Linked DNA regions of Homo sapiens: region 2 is linked to region 1. Evidence: fine-mapped expression QTL. A gene starts in region 1. The other region holds a variant in brackets. All regions are shown on one strand. Distances are between the middles of the regions.

What was found. PIP is the estimated chance that this variant, and not a neighbour inherited with it, causes the effect.
Region 2: its variant is fine-mapped to the expression of VEZT in tibial artery (GTEx, PIP above 0.99). The same link has a PIP of 0.9 or more in atrial appendage.

What each region holds. Positions count from the first base shown.
Region 1 is chr12:95,212,864-95,224,169 of GRCh38, forward strand. VEZT (vezatin, adherens junctions transmembrane protein) reads left to right here and starts at 4,944. Exons shown (of 12, transcript NM_017599.4): 1 at 4,944-5,023. The coding sequence starts at 4,988. It overlaps FGD6 (FYVE, RhoGEF and PH domain containing 6), which reads right to left and starts at 4,604. Exons shown (of 21, transcript NM_018351.4): 1 at 4,362-4,604. The coding sequence starts at 4,377. RefSeq lists enhancers at 1,107-1,186, 4,268-4,862, 4,863-5,458, 4,923-5,162, 5,763-5,812 and a silencer at 4,463-4,692.
Region 2 is chr12:95,296,497-95,307,802 of GRCh38, forward strand. VEZT (vezatin, adherens junctions transmembrane protein) reads left to right here. Exons shown (of 12, transcript NM_017599.4): 12 at 3,669-6,303. The coding sequence ends at 4,177. Among named protein-coding and RNA genes, the nearest start is that of MIR331, 6.3 kb to the right of the region's middle. The variant A/G (reference allele first, on the strand shown) is at 4,275.

The DNA of each region.
Region 1 (11,306 bases):
CCCTAAATCTCTACTTCTATGTGTGCAATAAAGATTATATGATGTATATGATGATACATGTCCTCTCACTCAATTTCTAGGTATAATGTCATCATCAATAAAAAATTATTTTCAAAATAATGCAAATTCCTATACTACATAATTTCAGTTAGCTGTTCAATCATCATAGTTAATTTTGTCTGAGTTTTTTTTAGGCAGAAAATAACTGAAAAACCCTTCAAATCCTAGTGAGAAACCTAGTTGTAAATGTCTATTAAATCAAACCCTCCATTTAGTAAGTCAAGTCTTAAGAGAAAGTATGAATGCCTTAGGCCTCTTCCCAACGGCCCATCTTACTCAGTACGACTGTCAAGTTGATTTTATTTCTGTAACCATTATCAAAACATCCTACCTCTGGGATTTTTCAAAGAATTTTTTAAAAATTAGTTTTGGCAGCCTGGCATAGTGGCTCATGCCTGTAATCCCAGCACCTTGGGAGGGCAAGGTGGGAGGATTGCTTGAGCTCAGGAATTGGAGACCAGCCTGGGCAACACAGTAAGACTCCGTCTCCATGAAAACAAAAAAAATAGTTTCGTAAAATGAAGAGTTCTTGAGATTGGATGTACCATGTGAATGTACTTAACACTTCTGAACTATACACTTAAAAATGAGTAAGACGGTAAATTTATCTTATGTGCTATTTTACCACAGTTGGAAGAAAACTTCATCTCTCATCAAATTAATCTTTTACTTTCCGTATCTTAGAACCTTGTCAGAAGCTTTAGGGTCATTTAAATATCATTTTTAAAAAATCCCTGGTACCAATTTTACTCTTTTTAAAAAATGCGTTTTGTACACAAATCTGCTTCCAAGAGATATAAATTCCTGTTCTAGTGTCACAGAAATTCAATTAACTACGTATGTGCTGGAGTTGATTCCCAATAAATATAGCAAAGTCCTATTACGTACATAAAACCCTCAACGCATACTCACTGAATTCAATTAATAACTGTGAACTTGGGCTTGCCATTGTTAGTTAACTGTGTATTGAAGGAAGTCACAGACATAACTCAGGGAGCTGGCTAACCTAATTGTGGGCCTTGTACAGACCTGGCTGCCTCACTTTCCTTCCTTATAAATGGGGGAGTTGAACAGGCCTCTAAAGCCCATAGGAATCTGAGATGATAACTTCTGAGACACTCATTTCAGAAGAACCTCATGTACTGTGGCCTCTGTCTCCTGCGTTGATGTTTTTTCAGTTCACCTTTGTCTGTGTTCAGCATAAGACACAAGCTCCAGAAGGGCAGGCACTTTGTCTCATTCACTGATGTATCCCAGTGCTAACAACAGGGCCTGGGAATAATCACAGCTGCCACATACACATACTCTTTAATATGTCTCCATAACAGAAAATTTCTTCTTTAAAAATAATCACATTCAAAAATGTACATCCATTTTAATGTAGAATAATATTTTGAAAAGTTAGCAGGAATCAATTTCAATACGATTATTGAAAAATTCCTTAATTATTAATAGGAACAAGTGTTCAACTAAGTCACTGGTAGAGCAATATCCAAAATCCTTCATTATTTTTTTTTCATGGCTCTATTTTGGAAGAAACACAACTCAAAAAATAATAAGCCATTATATTATGGTCTACTCCAATGTGAAATAAGTGCATGACATTTGGCAATAAATCTAGCACCTTTGGATCTTAATACTGCATCAACAGTCAGACCCAAAGCTTCTTAGAGCAAAGCAGCAAATCTTTTATTTACACAGCTGTTTGGCTCCAGGGAAATATAAGGTAAGAAAGTAAAGCACTAGTACCATTTTACTAACTATTACAAACATACTCGTCATCTGTTACACACAGATGGCTGTGGTTCACGTGTACACTCTCTGGCTACTGGACCAGCCAAAACGCAAAGCACAGACAATGAAGACAGTGACCTGTACATGTTCAAAAGGACACAAAATATATACCTATATATACCTATAATTCTCTCTCCTTTTTTCTTTTTTTTTTTTTTTTTTTGAGATGGAGTCTTGCTCTGTCACCCAGGCTAGAGTGCAGTGGCTCGATCTCGGCTCACCACAACCTCCGCCTCGCTGGCTCAAGCAATTTTCATATCAGCCTCCCGAATAGCTGGGACTACAGGCGCACCCCACCACACCTGGCTAATTTTTGTATTTTTAGTAGAGACAGGGTTTTGCCATGTTGGCCAGGCTGGTCTCAAACTCCTGACCTCAAGTGATCCACCCGCCTTGGCCTCCCAAAGTGATGGAATTACAGGCTTGAGCCACTGCGCCCAGCCTCTCCTTTTTCATATACAGCTTAAAATAATTCTGAAATCTCCACTAAGGGCAGATTATTTTATAGATGTAGAAAAACAAAGCAAGCTTTTCTGCTGGATACATATAACCTAGATGTTCTACAACATTCCTTTTATTTTCTTAAATTAAACCAACCCTTCCAAATACCACAGATTAGATTCAAAAGCAAAAATCCCCTCCCTTAACTTCAAGTAACTTTCCTAAACGTTTCAATGAATTTGACTATTGTTCCCAAAAAGCACCATAATCAGCTTGTAAGAACTATGTATACATATAAGAATGGGTAGAAATAAAACCCCAGTTCTCTTCCATATTCCCCATCTAGACACCAGAAAGAATTATGATAAATCCAACAGATGGGTGAGCAAAAAAGTAGTTGATGCTTCTCAGCCAGCAATGCTAAAAACCAACCAACTCGGCTAGACACAGGAAGTGTCCCACTTTAAACACCACAAAAATTTCTGTGGATTTCTTTAATTGTAAAGTTGATAAAATACAAAAATAGCTTGCATTATTTTAGGATAATTCAAATGCAAGAATCATGAACTTCCAGTCTGGGCCCTAGAAATTGGGTTTACATAAATGTGAAATTACATGCTTCTGTGCCTGTTCCTTATAAACTGTTAAGACTGGAATTGAAAACTGATACATATAAGACACGGTTATTTTAAATACATTTGACACCTCCAAAAAGGAAAGAGCTAAAACTGGCTGGAAGGATTTTAAAATTTCCAACCACTTTTAATTTAAATCAATTTCTTGAACGAAGGTAAGGCACAGAAATGTAGGATGAAAATAATTTACCTTATGTAAGTATAAAGCCTCCCTTTGGCAAAGAAAAGAGAGTTTATAAAGATATCTCATATAAGTGCATATAACATCAAAAAGGAAAGACCCACACAACACCCACTTCTTGCTTTCTTTTCCTATTGGCTAACTTCTTGTTTCGTTTGTTGTAATCTGATCACAGGGAGCAATGCAACACTACAATATATCTAGGCTTTAGAAATAATACAAATCAGAACATTTGAGTGCTGTTGGACAGTTTCAAGTTGCAAGAATTTTAAACAAATGCCAAGAAAAGCAATGAAAATTTAATCTGATACTTAAGTGCTGATTCTGGAAGTAACCTTGAGAAGAAGCTTTAAACTATTTCACTATAAAATTTCTAATGAAAGTTTCAACGTGGACAAAAACGTAAAATAACCCATAACACTCTACTTAATACATAAGTTCTGGTTTAAAAATTAACCTATGTACTTACGAAGTGAACGTAACACCACTTTGGTAATTATTTTGTAAAACAGAAATTGTTCCTTAAGAATGTTCAGAAACACAACGTCTAGAATTGCTGAAAATCCACACAAAGATAGAGGCTTTGTCATTTGGATGAAGGGGAAAGAACTATGGGAGGCAGACAGAAAATAAAGCTTTGTTTACCCTAATCAGGTAGAAACAAACAAAATAATTGTAATTGGGTGCAGACAAGCAAAAAAAAAAAAAAAAAAAAAACCTCAACAATCTCAACTCCTCTGCTTCTCAGGTAACAGAGGTAAAACCACCAGGACATGACAATGTCTACGCCTCTTTAAAATGGGTAAAAGGTTTACCAGCAGATACAAGGTTGAAAGCGACTCACTTAGTGGCCAAATTGAACACGCTGAGAACACTGCCTTTACCTATAATAACTGATCTATTAACTTGGGAATCTACACTATTTTCACATGCAAAGGCGAAGTCCTCGCACTGCTGGAGAGATGAGCGAACGCCCTTCACACATCGCATTTCACCTGGTGCAGAGCCCCCAGCACAGTCCCCCTTGGAAGGGAGATCCCGAGAAATCCCGGGTTTCCAAACAGCCCCTCTGGGCAGGAAAAGACGAGAAAGCCGGCAGCGAATCCCATTAGCTCCGCGCTTGCCGAGGTGCTCGGCAAAGGTACGGGGCACACAACTCGCCCACCCCGGCGAAGAAAGTTGCTCGCGAGCCCAAGCCTAGCAGCGCTCGCCACAAACTTTCCCGCGGCAGCGCGAGCGCCGTCACTTACCGGCTGCAGAAGTCATGATTCCCCGGTGCAGCTCGCTTCCCCGCTCGGCCCCTCAATCCATCTTCCCCTTTCAGTCCATTGTTCCCACAGTTCGGGTAGGAGAGAAAAGCCCCCGCAGCGCCCACATTCCGTCCCGCCGCCCCGCGGCGCAGCCTGAGCGCCACACAAAGGACGCGGCCGACTCTAGCGACCCTGCGGCGCTCCCGGGCGCGAGCCGCCGGGGTCGGGCGGGCGAGCACTAGCACCGCCCCGCAGAGCGGCAGGCTGACAGCCAGGCGCGGGCACGAGCAGTGCTCTCTTCGGCTCCGCTGGCGCGTGCCCTTCTCGGGCTCCAAAAATCAGCAGTGCTCCGGGCGCCCCCTGCTAGTCGCGGCCGTAAAAGGCAGACAAAAGCCCTAGCCTCCTCCAATCGGAGGGCTCGAGCTTCAGCTCGCTCCCGCCTCTCTCGCTTACACGCTCACTCTCTTCTCCAATAAGCGGGCTCGAAAAGGGGGCGTGAGCGGCGAGGCATATTGGGAATTGTAGTTTTCTGGACCCACGGGACGGGCAGGAGCTGGAGCTCCGTGCCGCCTGTACTCCCGCCTTCATTTCCCATCGTGCTGAGGCGGGTGGCATGGCGGAGAAGGATGACACCGGAGTTTGACGAAGAGGTGGTTTTTGAGGTAAGAGGAAAATGGCGGTGGGTGTGGATTGCCTTTGTTTGAGAAGGACGAGACGGAAATCGAGGAAGCAAGGCGTTCCCGGGGCGAGGGATCGGGTGACGCGCTCCAGCTGGCCTCGACCACCGAACCCCAGCGATTTCAGGGCCTAGAGTCCGTCGTCGCCTGACAGGTGTAGCCAGAGGCGCCCTGGCCGTGGCCGGCCTCTATCTCGGGCCCGCCCAGAATTCCCAGACGGTGCCCGGTTGCCAGGCTCTGGGCTGGAGCGGTGTCTCTTCCTTCCTGGGAATGGATGTGCGGCGGGGGGGACTGCGCCCGGCTGGGGCGGGGCCGAATCGTGCCTTTTAGATAGTCACAACTTAGCCTCCTCCTTTTCCATCCGCGATTTTTTTGGGTCAGTATCCAGAGTGCTTCAGGTCACTGTTCACCGTCAAGGCGTGGCCCTCGGAATGAAGGCAGCAGGTGCCCGTTTTCTAACACGGTTTAAAGTCTATTTGTGGGACCTACTGTGGGTAGTTAGGGCCAGGGCATCTCAGCATCTAGATTCGATTCTTTTGTCCTTTGCTGTTGCGCTAGGTGTAGCCAGTTCTTCTGACTCGGGGCTCTAGATGTGAGTGCTTTTGTGTGGGACTATTTTAAGACGTTCTCTGCCATCTTGAATGAAAAAAATCGGGCGAGTGTTTTTGATGCCATTTTTTTCCATCAGACACAGGTCAAAACTCGCACCCCTGTACGTATGTGTATTGCATGTATACGCTTTACTTTCATTTATCCAACTAGATTTTAAGAAAATTTAAAAATGAAGTGGCCCATGCCATACAGCGAGAGAGCGAGGCACAGACAGGACAGAATGCTAAATGTTGAAATATGTACAAACTGTCATTGAAGGATTAATTTCTGTTCTTGCGGCCTCCCAGAGGCTACACCCAGTACGCGATATCCGAGGTGAATCTTTAACTATGAATTGGATTAGAAAAACCGGCAGGAGAAAATGTATTACAGGGAAAGAGAACTGATTATGCCAAGCTTGGGAAGTGTGAAAGTACCTGGTGTGCATTTTTAGGGGGCGGGGTGTGGAGGGTGGCTATGTAAAGTGGCTTGATGTGGCTGCAATGAAGAAGCAGTGGAAAATGTGGCCATTTTACCGAAGTGAAGAGTCTAGATATGAGGCGTTCATTAGGGAAGACAAGGGCCTGAGATGAAATGAGAGACGTAATGGAATAATGGCTTGGACAGACACTTGTAAGTTAAAATCGAGGCAATGTTTATAGATTGAATGTGGTAGCTGAAGGAGAGAGAAATATTTTCTAGAGTAAGGGTAACTGATGGGTGTATTTTTTTTACCCATTATTTTTGATTTCTGAATATAATAGTAATATATGCTCAAGGAACATTTTATTGTAGAAAATAAGCCCCCAAGTTAAAATCATCCATTATCCCACCACCCAAAGATGGTAACTATTAACAGTACGGTATGTGTTCTTATAGACTTTATTTCTATGTAAATGTGTGTTTATGTGTGTGTAATTTTTTAGCCTCTATATTAAGACACAATGTGTGTGTGATATTTTTTAAAACAAAAGGTATACCACGTAGAATTTTGTATATATTTTTCACTTGACTTTATCGTGAATCTTTTCCCATTCATCATTCTCTGAAAACATTAATATTATAATATCCCCTCACGTGTATCATAATATAACCTTTTTTTAAAAAAATACCATTGTAATCAACAGTGATATAAGCCTATTTTTAACTACAACTCTGATTTTCCTCAGAATAATTTTTAGAAGTAGAACTAGTGGGTGAAAGAATATGAACATTTAAGACTTACGCAGAAAGGTTATACCAATTCCGGTTTCCATTAAGAATAAGAGAGTATTGGTTTCACCAAATCCTCAACAACAGCCTTAACAGTTTCCTTTAATCTTTGCTAATTTGATAGGCAAAAATAACATTCCATTGTTTTAATTTACATTTTATGCATTTATACATTTATTAGCTATTTTTATTTCTTTGAACATTTCTCTTCATATTTGTTGCTCATTTTCTTATTAGATGCTAGCTTTAAAAAAATTGACTTGCGTGAGTTCTTCATATATTACTAAGCCTTTGTCATACTTGCAGAAAAATTTCCAGTTTGCTGTTTGTTTGCTCTTTGATATACACAATTTTTATTGCAGTATAATTTACATAAGGACAGGGCACAGATCACAAGTGTGTGGATGGTTATATTTTCACATGTTGAGCACACCCATGTAACCAGCACCCAGATCAAGAAACGGGACAGATGGGGCATGGTGGCTCACACCTGTAATCTCAGCACTTTGGGAGGCTGAGGCAGATGGATCCCTTGAACCCAGGAGTTTGAGATTAGCCTGGACAACATGGTGAAACCCTATCTCTACAAAAAAGACAAAAATTATTTGGGCGTGGTGGCACATGCCTATAGTCCCAGCTACTCGGGAGGCTGAGGTGGGAGAATCACTTGAGCCTGGGTAGGTCAAGGCTGCAGTGAGCCATGATCGCACCGCTGTACTCCAGCCTGGATGACAGAGCCAGACTCTGCCCCAAAAAAATAAAAAATGAAAAAAGAAACAACATCACCAGCACACCAGAAGCTCCCTCCTGGTCCTTTCCATCACTACTCCCTACCCCAAAATGATCACTATTTAAACATAATAACCTAGATTAATTTTGTCTATTTTTATTGTTTAGACACTGTGCATTTCCATTTATATACTCTCTTATTTCTGACTTTTTTTTTTCCTCTCTGGCTTTATTTGTGAGATTCGTCCATATTGTTAACATGAGAATTTTTATTTTGGCATAGTATTCCATGTGAATATATGATCATTTTTAAATTCATTCTTCTATTAATGGTCATTGAGTAGTTCCCAGGTTTAAACTAGTGCTACTGTGAACCTTTTTGTATGTGTTTGGTTAAACATATTTCTGGTGGATATATATGTAGGAATGGAATTGCTGGGTCATAGCAAATACCTAGATATTTCTGTAGATATTGCCAAACTTTATTCCAAAGTGGTTGTACCAGTTTATTCTCCAGCCAGGAATGTATGAGAGGTCCCATTGCCCCACATCCTCATCAACCCTTGCTAATTTTAGTGTTTTTCTTTTTATGATTCTAGGGGCTATGTCCTGGTATCTCCTTGTGGTTTTAATTTGTATTTTCTTGATAAAGATGTTAAGATTTTTAATGTGTTTATTAGCCAATTGTATATCCATTTTGTGAAGCCACGTCAAATTTCTTGCATATTTTTCTATTGGGTTGTTTCTTTTTCTTGCTGATTTGAAGGAATTATTTACATACACTGGATACAAGTCCTTTGTTAGAGATGCAGTTGGCCCTCCTTAGCTGAGAGTTCCACATCTGCAGATTGGACCAACCGTGGCTCACGCCTATAATCCTAGCACTTTGGAAAGCTAAGCCAGGCAGATCACTTGAGGCTAGGAGTTTGAGACCAGCCTGGCCAACATGGCGAAACCCAGTCTCTACTAAAAAATACAAAAACTAGCTGGGCATGGTGGCATGCACCTGTAGTCCCAGCTACTCCAGAGGCTGAGGCATGAGAATCGCTTGAACCCAGGAGGCGGAGGTTGCTCTGGGTGACAGAGTAAGATTCCATCTCAAAAAAAAAAAATAAAGGAAATACTCTGGCCCAGTGAGGTGGCTCATGCCTGTAATCCCAGCACTTTGGGAGGCTAAGGTAGGAATATTGCTTGAAGCCAGGAGTTTAAGACCAGCCTGGTCAACATTAACAAAACCCTGCATATTAAAAAAAAAAAAGAAAAAAATTAACCAGGTGTGGTGATGCATGTCTGTAATGCCAGCTACTCCACAGCCTGAGGCAGAAGATTGCTTGAGCCCAGGAATTTGAGGCTGCAGTGAGCTACAATTCCAGCCTGGGTGACAGAGTGAGACCATATCTCTAAATAAATAAATAAATACTCAAAAATATTCAAAAAATAATACAAATAAAAAAACTATACAGGATAACAACTATTTACATAGTGTTCACATTGTATTAGGTATTACAAATAATCTAGAGATGATTTAAAATATGTGGGAGACTGTGTGTATGTTATATGCAAATACTATGCCATTTTATATAAGGGACTTGAGCATCCATGGACTGGGTATTTGCCCTAGTCCTGTGACCAATTCCCCATGAATAAAGAGACAACTGTATATACCTCATATATCTTACCTTGGGCTATATGTGGCCTCTGCACTCTTTTAATCGTGTCTTTCAATGAACAGAAGCTCCTTATTATAATCCAATTAAACCTTATTCTTTTGTGATTAGTGCTGTTAAAAAAATATTTGCCTACTCTAAGGTCACAAAGATATTTTCTTTAAAAGCTTTATTTGACATTTTCCCATTTAGATCTGTCATCCATCTGGTACTGATTTTTGTATGGTAACAAGTGAAGATCAACATTTTTTTTTCCCCGTATGGATGTCCAGTTGACCTGGCACCATTTACTGAACAGATCATTTTTTCCCCACTGAACTGTAGTGTTGCCTTTGTCATAAATCAGGGAATCTTTTATGTGTAGATCTCTTTCTGGACACTGTCTTCTTTGCCATTGATCATTTTGTCTATTCGTGTGTTAATACCACATTATTTTAATTACTATAATTTAAAAAATAGGTTTTAATATCTGATAGCATAAGACCCTTCAGCTGTATTTTTCTTCAGGATTGCCTTTGGCTATTCTTGGCCCATTATATTTCCATATAAATTTTAGAATCAGCCTGTCAGTTTTTGTAAAAAAATAAAAAATAAAAATAAAAAAACCCTACTGAGACTTTGATTGAAATTGCTTTGAAGCTATAAATTAATCTGGGGAAACTTAACATCTTTACAATCAATATTGAATCTTCCAATCCGTGAACATTTATTGCTTGCCTTCTAAATGAATCAAGCAACTTCTCATCTCGTTCTGTGCTCTAGGACTGATTTTACAAAATGAGAATTATCTGTTTCTTCAGAGTATAGCTAAATTGGCCTTTCCTGGGGAAAAGAGACTGAATGTTGTCTATCAGCTCAATTTCTTTTATGGTTATTGCTCAGGTACAATTTTCTATTTTGATAACTTTTTTATTCTGAAAGGCAGTGTAATATAGTTAAAGATATGGGCTCTGGAGCTGGATAACCTAAGAAATCCTAGGTCAGCTATTTATTAGTTATATTAGTTAATGTGACTTTGAGCAGGTTACTTAACTTGTCTAAGCTTCAGTTTTCTCCATATTAAATAAAAATAACAGTAACTATCTCGTAAGGTAGTTATGAGTACTAAATGATTTAATATAAGTGAATTACTTAGATGAGTACCTGACACATTGTAAACACTCAGTAAATGTTACCTTTTATTAAATTTTTCCAACAAATTGCTTTTTATCTAGGTTTTCAAAATTATTGATATATTCTTAGTAGTCTCTTTAGTTTCATTTATAGCACAAATTAGATCTGATTGTTGTTATGTTTTTCTTTTTGTTTTGCATAGATGTGCTGGAGTTTCAACTTACCAGATAGACTTTTCTTTTTTTTGAGACAGAGTTCCACTCTGTTAGCCTTGTCGCCCAGGCTGGAGTGCAATGGCAGGATCTTGGCTTGCTGCAACCTCTGCCTCCTGGGTTCAAGCAATTCTCCTGCCTCAGCCTCCCGAGTAGCTGGGATTACAGGCACCCATCACCATGCCCAGCTAATTTTTGTATTTCTAGTAGAGATGGGGTTTCACCATGTTGGCCAGGCTGGTCTTGAACTCCTGACCTCGGGTGATCCACCCACCTCGGCCTACCAAAGTGCTGGGATTACAGATGTGAGCCACCGTGCCTGGCCTCAGGTAGACTTTTCAAAAAACTAGTTGGTTTTGTTTGGTCAGTTCTATTGAATTTGTTTGTGGTTTTAAATTTTTTTAAAATTTCTACTTTTATCTATTTCCATTCATCTATTTGTGTTTATTTTGCTATTTTTGTTCTGTTTTTTTTAGCTTCTTGAGTTAAAAACCTAAATGCCCAAAATAACTTGTAAGGCTATAAATTTCCCTGAGTATTGCTTCAGTTGTATCACGAAAGTTTTGAAATGTAGTTTGTCTCATGGTTGTATAAGTTCCATTTTTATTTCTTATTTAATACCCAAGTATATAGTTGAGGGATTGATGTTATCATTGGTGATTATTTTTCTCCCTGTGTCCCTCAGACCCATAATTCCACCCTGATCATTATGGACTGCATCACTGCATTCCCTTGTCCTCTGGG
Region 2 (11,306 bases), 84 kb after region 1:
TTTTAGAATGGGCAGTGAGTTGAATAATTTGGGATATTTTAAATGTTATTTTCAAATTTAGTGAATTTGAGATTCTCAACTCTGTTGTCCATATGTTAAAATATTTAAAAATACCTCAGTGAAGCACAAAATTAATAACTGTGCTCACATTGAAAAAAATGGCCCAGGCGCAGCGGCACATGCTTGTAATATCAGCACGTTGGGAAGCTGAGGCGGGTGGATCATTTGAGGTCAGGAGTTCAAGACCAGCCTGGCCAACATGGCGAAACCCCATCTCTACTAAAAATACAAAAATTAACAAGGCATGGTGGCGCGTGCCTGTAGTCCCAGCTACTCGAGAGGCTGAGGCAGGAGAATCACTTGAACCCGGGAGGCGGAGGTTTCAGTGAGCCAAGATCACGCCACTGCACTCCAGCCTGGGCAACAGAGGGAGACTCCATCTCAAAAAGAAAAAAAGAAAGAAAAGAAAAGAAAAGAAAAAAAAGGAATTAAAACCTAGACCAGTGAGCCACATCATTAGCATTATTTAAGTGGTTTGAGCACTTTAGTAGATGGGAGGGGAGCAGGGTGCCTGTGGGCGTACTCCCCATACTCTGATTTCAGCAGAGTGGGGTAGCTGGTAATACAAAAGCCTTACATTCCTTTCTGTTTCTCACCCTTCTTTTCTTAAGTCAAACTTCATGGGAGACAGGGAAGGAATCAGGGGAAGCTTAATACTTGACAGTATCAACCTAGCTAATTCTTAGTTGAATTAATGCCTATGGATTTCTAAGTAGGTAGAGTGTGGATTCTCTTCCATTTTACAGTATCTGTGTGGACCCTCGAAATCAACTGCCCTGCTTTTCCCTCCTCACTAGAAGTACATAGATTACCTATACTTCTGGAAAGTTCCTCCAGTTCTCTTTTTTTTTTTCCCCTCAGGAGCCCTATGTTTTCTCCTGTCCAGATCTGCATTTCTTGGTTTTATCATTCCTCTTTCTTCCCATTGGCCCCCTTTATAGCCCAGGTCCTCAGTAGATTATCCTTGTACATTAAAATACCTTCTTAGCTGACTTCCATTTTCAGTACTTTTTTCTTCTAAGCTATCTTGCAAACTCTTTGCAGATTTTTCTCCAACACTGCATTGATGATGGCTCTCTATCTTAAAACCTATAGTGGTTTCTCCCTTTCTTATTGTGTTGAATCTAAACTCTTTTTCCTGTTTTCAAGTCTCTTCATCATAAGAATTCATCTATCCAATTATATTTTCTACTGTTTTTACTATAGATATCTTCTTATGTTTATCGAATTAAACTACAGTTCACAAATGTGTTATTTTTATTCATGAAAAAAATTCATGCTGGCCAAGCACAGTGGCTCACGCCTCTAATTCCAACACTTTGGGAGGCCAAGGCAGGTGGATCACTTGAGGTCAGGAGTTCAAGACCAGCCTGGCCAACATGGCGAAACCCCCTCTCTACTAAAAATACAAAAATTAGCCAGGTGTGATGGCGCACACCTATAATCCCAGCTGCTCTGGAGGCTGAGGCAGGAGAATCGCTTGAACCTGGGAGGTGGAGGTTGCAGTGAGCCGACATCGCACCACTGCACTCCAGCCTGGGTGACAGAGTGAGACTCTCTCTCAAAAAATAATAATAATAATAATAATAATAATAATTCATGCTTACCCCTTTACCAAGAATTCTGCCTTCTCCACCAAGCTGTCCTCTCTACTAGTCTCTCCTTCTCCATGAATCCTTCTCTGAGTGCTCCAGCTCTGCCGCCTCTCCTAACACTACAGACCCTCACACTAGAGGAACATTGTGATAAAATATAAAGGAAGTCTTGAACCCCAAAGCATATAGCAGAGAAGGGAAATGATTAACAGATTGATTTCCTGCAATCTGTTCATTCATATACTGGGCCTACATACATCAGAGATTAATTTTAGGCACTGTTGTTTTCTATATGTTCAGGGTTTTGTTTTGTTTTGTTTTGTTTGTCTCTGTAACAAAATTACAGTCTTCTTAAATAGGGGCCTTATTATCCCACAGCATTCATTCAGCAAATTACTCATTCAACAAGTAGTTATTAGGTACTTGTTATATGTCAGGCACTGTTTACTGCTGTATCCCTAGCGCAAAGATCAAGAGACAAAATGTAAAGCCTCCTACCTGCCTCAAGGCTTAAATTCTAACACACTCGTCAATTGATCCTCTCATTACTCAGATTATATCCACCCCATTTAATTAGTAATAATTGTGAACTATCAACCAACTTCTAATATATGTTGCTTCCTTTAAGAGCTAACAGATTTATAAACTAAGAATGTACATATATTGAAAATAGCATTGTATATAAACTTATATCCTTTTTTATTGTTTAGTGTTTCTTCATATAGCTTTAAAATTATGCTATTGACATTATGGGAAAGATTTATCAATGAGAGAAATGTGTCTCTTTTTCAGGTATGTGCTTTTGATATAGTTTACATTGGAAAGGGTCATAATGCTGTTTTAGTTTGTGAAAATAAGTAAAAAGCTGCTGATACCATAGAATGCTTTTCCCATGAAAAATTTCAGTACATCTTCCAGAGCTGTTTTCATCTCTGCCTACAGGGGTAAAGTCCGCATGGAATTAGAGGGGGAAAGTCTGCACTGGAACCTGCTGTGGCCATTTTTTTTCTGTTGTTGCTGCTTCTCTAGTGGAGTTACTGCAGCTTAGGGATGGTTCCTGGAAGTGGACACATTTTACAAAAACGTTTTTTAAATACACGCCAGCTCTTCGAGAAGCACTTTTTTCCTTCCGTCATGCTTCATACTATATTGTATTGTACTAACCCCTCATGCTGGGATGAGCGACTGCCTAGCAAGCAACCCACTGCCTACTAACATCAAGAGGGGCTAAATAAAACTGCATTTTCCTTGCAAGGACAACTTCTACCGTATGAATATATATTATATTTATGTATTATATTTTGTACAATAGTTGATCTTGAATGCAGACTTCATTTGTATTTTTCGTGGTACTACAAAATGTGTAGAAGTTATGGCTTTTCTTTCATTAGGGTCTTGTTAGGTGGTTGGCAAGTAAGTTAAATTGTATGTTGCATTTTTTTCCATGCTGTTTTAACTTGTAAATATATATGTATACATATGGAAGATATTATTATTATCTAGATTACTTTAAGCCTTTTATCTGATGTATTATCAGTGAAAACCATGCTGCTTATTCCCTAATACAATGGTTCTCAAACTTTAGTGTGTATCAGAATCAAGATGAGGGCTTGTAAAATATAGCTGGTCCCTACTCCCAGAGTTTCCATTTCAGGAGGTCTGGGATCAGGCCCAAGAATTTGCATTTTTAACAAATTCCTAGGTGATAACTGATAATGTTGGTTCAGGGAACACACTTTCAGAACCACTGCTTTAATATTTTAAATAAGATAATATGTGAGGTGTCATAAAAACCTTCATCAAATCCCTATCTCATTTCATTTCTTAGGCATTTTCTCTCTTATAAAGTTTCCTGGATTTATAAATTTTCATTGATTTTACTAGAAAGTTTTATTTAGCTTTTATTTATTTATTGTTCTTTTTAAGAAAAAAACTGAGAGTTTGAATTAAAAGTTTAAATCATTGCTAGGTCCTTAGTTATTTTTTTTCTTTTTTCTTTTTTTTTATTTGAAGCCGTGTTGAAATCCTTGTCTCCTGTAGACCCAGTGGAACCCATAAGTAATTCAGAACCATCAATGAATTCAGATATGGGAAAAGTCAGTAAAAATGATACTGAAGAGGAAAGTAATAAATCCGCCACAACAGACAATGAAATAAGTAGGACTGAGTATTTATGTGAAAACTCTCTAGAAGGTAAAAATAAAGATAATTCTTCAAATGAAGTCTTCCCCCAAGGAGCAGAAGAAAGAATGTGTTACCAATGTGAGAGTGAAGATGAACCACAAGCAGATGGAAGTGGTCTGACCACTGCCCCTCCAACTCCCAGGGACTCATTACAGCCCTCCATTAAGCAGAGGCTGGCACGGCTACAGCTGTCACCAGATTTTACCTTCACTGCTGGCCTTGCTGCAGAAGTGGCTGCTAGATCTCTCTCCTTTACCACCATGCAGGAACAGACTTTTGGTGGTGAGGAGGAAGAACAAATAATAGAAGAAAATAAAAATGAGATAGAAGAAAAGTAAGAACCAAGATTCATATGAAGTGATATTAGATTGTTCCTTTTACAAAAGTGTTTAGCTTCAAGACTGGAAAGGGAATATGAGTGTAAGTTTACTATAT[A/G]TAAAGCTAAGATGTGGATTTACAGGAAGAACCCTGGTTTGAATAACTGATCTGAAATTAGTAGTTACCTGTAAATGGCAGATCTTTTAGGAAAATAAGAGAAAGGTAAGGGCTCTTTTGAATAAACTGCTGTTTTATTTGTGGCACAACTGATCAATCTTGGAAATTCTTTAAGTATTTTTAATAAGAAATGAATTATCATTTCTTGCCAGAATTTGCTACCTTAAGGTGATTGGGAAAATTCTGTTGCAAGAACATTAACATTTAGTATGACTCCTTTTTACTGTATTCTTGCAGTTAATAACTGCAGCTATTATGTTAATAACAAGTTGTTTGTATTTTATTTTTGTTTATACCAGTCTTAAAGATCCAGGTTCTGAATAAAAAAATTAATTGATACAATTGATGTGTGCTGGGGTTTGGAACTAAAAGTAGTTTCAACAGTGCGTGGGTTATGACATTTCTTATGTTTCTTTGTTCATGTGTGTATTTAGTAGTTAATTTTAAGATGTCCTAGTGATCTTTAAAAGAAAAATATTGTACCATTTTTTAGAATTACACTTTCACCTTTCTTTTTGCAATTGAAAGTGATGATGTCAAAGTGGGATTTCTGTACTCCAAGGCCCCACCCCCAATTTAGCAAGCAGAAAAACGTTCCTTGTATCACTTTACCTTGGATAATTGGGTGCCATTAACACAAACAGGTCACAATCCTGCTGTTTTCTAGCCCTGTCCACCATAATGAGATTCAGGAAACATCCTGTCAGCCTCCTGGAAAGCATCCTTGTCTCCTTAGTATTTCATTTACAAACTACCTCTTAACAGAGACTGCTTTTCAAATTGGCCAATCTTACCTGTTTTGTGTTGTGATTGCATTTTCAAAGAGTAATTATTTTCAGCATATACAGTTTTGAAACCTGTAGCTCCTATGCAATAACATAGTTCTATAGACATTATTTGGGGGAAATGTAGTAATAACTCAATCTATGTTGCTGTCCTAGAAAGGAAATTGCATGATGAATCTAGATTGTCTTTAGAGTAAAGAAACACATTCAAATTCCTGTAACTTATCACTTTCAGTGAGTAAATTTACTTATACCAAAGGGGATTTTTTTTCTTTCAGGAATCTAAGGAAATTTACTTTTTAACCTGAGAAAAAAACTTGGTTCTGCTTTATATAAACAGTAGAGATTATTGTACTATAAGTGATTTTGCCTTTTTGCCAAAATCCTGGAACTCATCTATAATTAACCTCTTCGGAGCAATACCTTAGGTTGGGCCTTGCTTTACTACTTAGAAATAGCTAAATTTCAATTTTAAAAATCTTTGTGTGTTATAACTGTTAAATTATTCAATAATACTTAGGGTTTACTTTCTTATTTAAATCACTTATTTAGTTTACCGACTTCATTTTTCTTTGGATTTAGAAGAAGCAATTATGGAAAAACTTGGTAATCTCTCTCAACCTATAACCTTACACAGGAAGAATTAGAGTTTAATAATTTTTAATTCTTTTATTGTATGTTACTTTTATTACACCAGTTTGGGGGAAAATCTTCATAAAATTGTATCAGTTTTATTCAGTGTTCTCTAAGGTGATACCTTTTAATTTTGAAAGACTAAATAATTTTAATCGAGAATTTCCAGTCTTTCAGTCTGATCTATTTAATTCACTACTTGTTACATAATCCAGTGAAAACTCTACTTGTTGAAATTATGACATAAAGATCTTGCAGCTTTATTTGAGTATTTGTTCTTTTGTGTAGTTTCCATCTTTTAAAATATTTAAAATATTTTCAAGATAAAGTATTATCTTCTCTGCAAAAATTCCTGGAGTAATTTTCTCTCATAATATTTGAAGTCAGTGGTTCTCAGTTGTATTAGTGGGGTAACTACATCAAAATAAATAAAGTCTTATTTTTAAAATGCAAATTTTAGACCATACTCCCAGTGATTCTTAGTTGGTCTTTTTGGAATGAGCCATAGGTAATGTTTATGTCCAATAAAATCTAGGAACCTCTGTCTGGAACTTTGCTCTTCTTGCCATGAATACCTTAGGAAGTATTAAAAAACAGGCCAATGTAATATGAGTAGGTTTTCTTGTTTGTTACTTTTCTAAGAATATTTTACTTCCCTTAGCAGGCTTTTGGCTAGCTTTCAAAGCTGCCACCCTGGCCAGGTGCGGTGGCTCACGCCTGTAATCCCAGCACTTTGGGAGGCCGAGGCAGGCAGATTGCCTAAGCTCAGGAGTTCGAAACCAGCCTGGGCAACATGGTGAAACCCCGTCTCTACTAAAAATACAAAAAATTAGCTGGGCATGGTGGTGGGTGCCTATAGTCCCAGCTACTCGGGAGGCTGAGGCAGGAGAATGGCGTGAACCTGGGAGGCAGAGCTTGCAGTGAGCCGAGATCGTGCCACTGCACTCCAGCCTGGGCGACAGAGCGAGACTCCGTCTCAAAAAAAAAGCTGCTACCCTATATACAGAAGAAGCCCTCTGGGGAAAAAAATAAAACACTGCAGGGAAAACTTATAATTGTGCTTTTTAAGTTTTACAATATGATTTTTAACAGTATGATTCTTGTTAGGAGTATCATCCTGACAGTTTTTAATACAGATATTTCTGTAGTTTGTTTTACCAGGACAAACCTAGTACTTAATGGAAGAATGCATGTGAGAGTCTATTTAGGTCACTCTTGAAGACAGAATTTGTACCCTTTGTCTACCTCCAGGTAGGAAAGTCCATTTAAAACTCAATTTTCTTAATAGTAATATTCTGATTTACGTAAGAAAAGTTATAAAGCTTTTAGTGTTAAAGCATTAAAAAAATCAAGTCCTGATACATTCCACAAAATTGTAAGTCAGTGGAGTGTTTACAGATCATTTCACTCTGGTGACTAACTCTTCACTTCCTATCAGTAATGTAAAATATGAAAAAGTTCAACTGATTTGGTTTAATCATAGTATATTGTTCCTATACCCAAAACAAACAAAGAAACAGACTAAATACTATAAGAGTGTATTATAGCTCAGCTAAATCATTGTTTGAACTAAAGTAGATATTATGCTAAGAATGACAACCAGACAAGGCATAAAGGTTGGTTTATTTTTCCAATTCTACTTACAAGAAAATAGTTATGCAGTTCACAATTAGAAAATAAAGCTACAAATATTTTAGAAGAGAAAATATAGAAAAAAAATGCAGTAACCATTTATCTGTCATCATAGACAGGTGATTAATTTGCCTAAGTTAACTTCTCAGCTAACTAAAACAAATCCATTTTAATAATTTAATAACTAAATGCACTACTTCTCTACTTTGTCTAGAGTATATAGAATATAATTTAACTTTTTCTGTCATCTTTAGGAATATCAGTTTCTATCATGGGGTGATAAACAGAAACTCATCCTCAGGGGCTACTGAGATATATGTCAGGTACCCCTTTACAACATGACCTCACACTGGTGTGCTTTTTTCAGTTATGTCTGTTTTTCACAGTTTCTCTATCTTCCCTTATAATCAGCTGTCACTTTTGCCGCCGTCTTGTGTGCCTGCCTCCTGCAATAGGTCCCTAATTTGCTGCTTCTAATCTGCTGTGGACTGAGAAACCAGATTGCCAAGCTTGCTAGAATTGTGTCTAAAATAAGAGTAAGTAGACTGAAAGAGAGCTAAGGGGCTTTTCTGTCAGTAAAGTGCATGGACTTTGTGATACCTGCTTGACTGCTTAGCATTGTTTTGTTTGCCTCTTAGTTCTTTACTAAAAACTTGCTAAAACAAATACTTGGTTGAATATGTGATTGCCATATATTTGAAGTTCTAATTCAGTTTTTATATAATGATGTTTCTAGGACTTCCATTAATGAATTCAACTATAAGAGAAATTTGACTATCATTTTTGAATAAATAATTGTGTATATTTCAGAAAAATGTTAAACGTATTGTTATCATTAATTGTTCTTAGTACAGTACACAGATTTAAAACTTATGGCACTATAAATGTAACTTCAACTCTGTTCATCAAGACTTATGTTCTAGAAATATTGTTATGAGACTAAAGATGGCTAATTTAGTAAGAACTGGGTAACTTGAATATTTGGGGAATGAGTCATTCTAGATATCCCAGTTTCCTGCAGAGCTTGAACCTCTTTCAGCCCTAAAATTTTTTGGAATAATCTCTGAAGGAAATCTTCATAAAATTGATATGCATTACTGTCTTAAATAATATATGAATGTATTTTAATTTGTTTGGTATCAAAATGATCAGCATTAACATCACTTATTATAATCTGATAGACTAATCAGACATTGAGAGCTGTTTGTCCCTGTACTAAATGGCTCCATTCTGCTGTACTCGTTTTAGTTTTCATGTCTTTAACAGTCGTTCTGATTCTTCCATTTCTATTACTGCTTGCTTAAGTGTGCCTGTAGCAGTAGCCCTTCTCCACCTTCATAATGTGCCTTCTGATCTGCTTTCATTTTGGAGACCAGACAAACTAAGTTTATTAGACTTCTGTGTAAAGTAAGAATAAATAAACTCAAAGTGAAGACTTGAGGAAGTGGATTATGCTTAAATGCATGGATTTTGTGACATCTGTTACTTTACTACCTGTTTCATTGCTATCGTTAAAATAAGTGAAGCTACCGAATTAGATACCTGCTCTCAAAATAGAAAAGTTGTTATGGTACAAAAGGAACTATTTTGTTTACATACTTTACTTTCTCTAAAGTTAGTTCTATACTAGAATTATTTGGCGCTGATTAAAACTGGTCCACTCAAGTTAGCATTTTCTATAGTATTTTCTATTTGAATTGGAGACTACATGCTGTTAAGAATTTCTTTGGCTTTTTTTTTGTTGTTGTTTTGTTTTGTTTGAGACAGAGTCTCACTCTGTTGCCGAGGCTGGAGTGCAGTGGTGCAATCTCGGCTCACTGCAAGGTCCGCCTCCCAAGTTCACGCCATTCTTCTGCCTCAGCCTCCGGAGTAGCTGGGACTACAGGCGCCCGCCACCACTCCGGCTATTTTTTTGTATTTTTAGTAGAGATGGGTTTTCACCGTGTTAGCCAGGATGGTCTCGATCTCCTGACCTTGTGATCTGCCGTCCTTGGCCTCCCAAAGTGCTGGGATTACAGGCATGAGCCACAGCGCCCAGCCGGCTTTTTTTTTTTTTTTTTTTTTTTTTTTAAGAGAGAAATGTATCTTCATTTCCAAGACATGAAAATAGATTAAGCCCTGAAAAATAAGAAAACATTCACTATTAATGTCACAGAGACCTGAGAAGTAATAAAATTTATAGACTATAGGCAATTATACCACAAAGAATTTATTTTTTGATTATGCTAGTTTTAAAAACAGGGTCTTTATTTTTATTCAGCTATAGTAAGCGGACGTTAAAAGCTTACCAAAAGTTATCAGTGTTAGATCTAATGATATTGGCAGATATTTGAATGACTAAATTCCCACTGTCATTCTGTACTGGGCATGATTAAATTGTAATTTAATATTTAATAATTAAGCAGGATCACTTTTCTCTCTTGAATGAAAAATAAAATTTGCACACTATAATATTTACAAGTAAAAGTCAAATCTGTATAGAAATGGATATCCTAGCATCAAACAACTTATTTTTAGCAACATGCTGATTATTTTAGTAACCATATATTGACTCATGTTTTCATTACAAAGTAACTGTCAAATCAGTCTGTTTATTTTATGACCATGCCTCATAGTCGGCATTCAGTTATCCATGCTAATGGAAGGGATCTGTGGTATAATAATCATAAAAGATAAGTGGTCCAGGCTGGGCGCGGTGGCTCACGCCTGTAATCCCAGCACTTTGGGAGGCCGAGGCAGGTGGATCACGAGGTCAGGAGTTCGAGACCAGCCTGACCAACATGGTGAAACCCCGTCTCTACTAAAAATACAAAAATTAGCCGGGCGTGGTGGTGGTACCTGCCTATAATTCTAGCTACTCAGTAGGCTGAGGCAGGAGAATCACTTGAACCCGGGAGGCGGAGGTTACAGTGAGCCGAGATTGCGCCATTGCACTCCAGCCTGGGTGACAGAGTAAGACTTCATCTCAAAAAAAAAAAAAAAAGATAGGTGGTCCAAACCAGTTTCTTGAGTTGAGACTGCCATTATAGAAGAGATAGTCAAGATACCAAAGCCAGGTCAGTGATAAAAGAAGAAAACTTCTGAGTGTAGTTGTGAGAGGAAAGTGATTCTATTCAGTGTAATTGCTGTAAACCAAAAAGAGGATTAATTGATTCAAGGATTCACACATGTAAAAGTTTAGCATGAATAAGGAGGAACTGATTTTATAGATATTCTAAAATGTGTGATAAGCTAGGACGTAGTGGCTCACACCTACAATCCTAGCACTTTGAGAGGCTGAGGCAGGAGGATCTCTTGAGGCCAGGAGTTCAAGACCAGCTTAGGCAAGAAACAGCAAGACTTGGTCTCTACAGAAAAACTTAAAAATTAGCTGGATGTGGTGGCACACACCTGTAGTCCCAGCTGCTCAGTAGGCTGAGGCAGGAGGATCACTTGAGCCCAGGAGGCCACAGCTGCAGTGAGCCATGATTGCACCACTGCACTCCAGCCTGGGCAACAGAACGAGAGACCTTGTCTCAAAAATAAATAAATGAAAATGGGCTGGGCGTGGTGGTTCACACCTGTAATCCCAGCAGTTTGGGAGGCCCAGGTGGGCGGATCACCTGAGGTCGGGAGTTCAAGAACCGCCTGACCAACATGGAGAAACCCCGTCTCTACTAAAAATACAAAATTAGCCGGATATGGTGGTTCATGCCTGTAATCCCAGCTACTCAGGAGGCTGAGGCAGGAGAATCGCTTGAACCTGGGAGTCGGAGGTTTTGGTGAGCCGAGATTGTGCCAATGCACTCCAGCCTGGGCAACAAGAGTGAAACTCTGTCTCAAAAAAAAAAAAAAAAAAAAAAAGAAGGAAAATGAAATGTGTGATAAATTAAAGTGCATATAGTATTTTTTATGGTATATATTTTAATGTATTTTAGCTTGT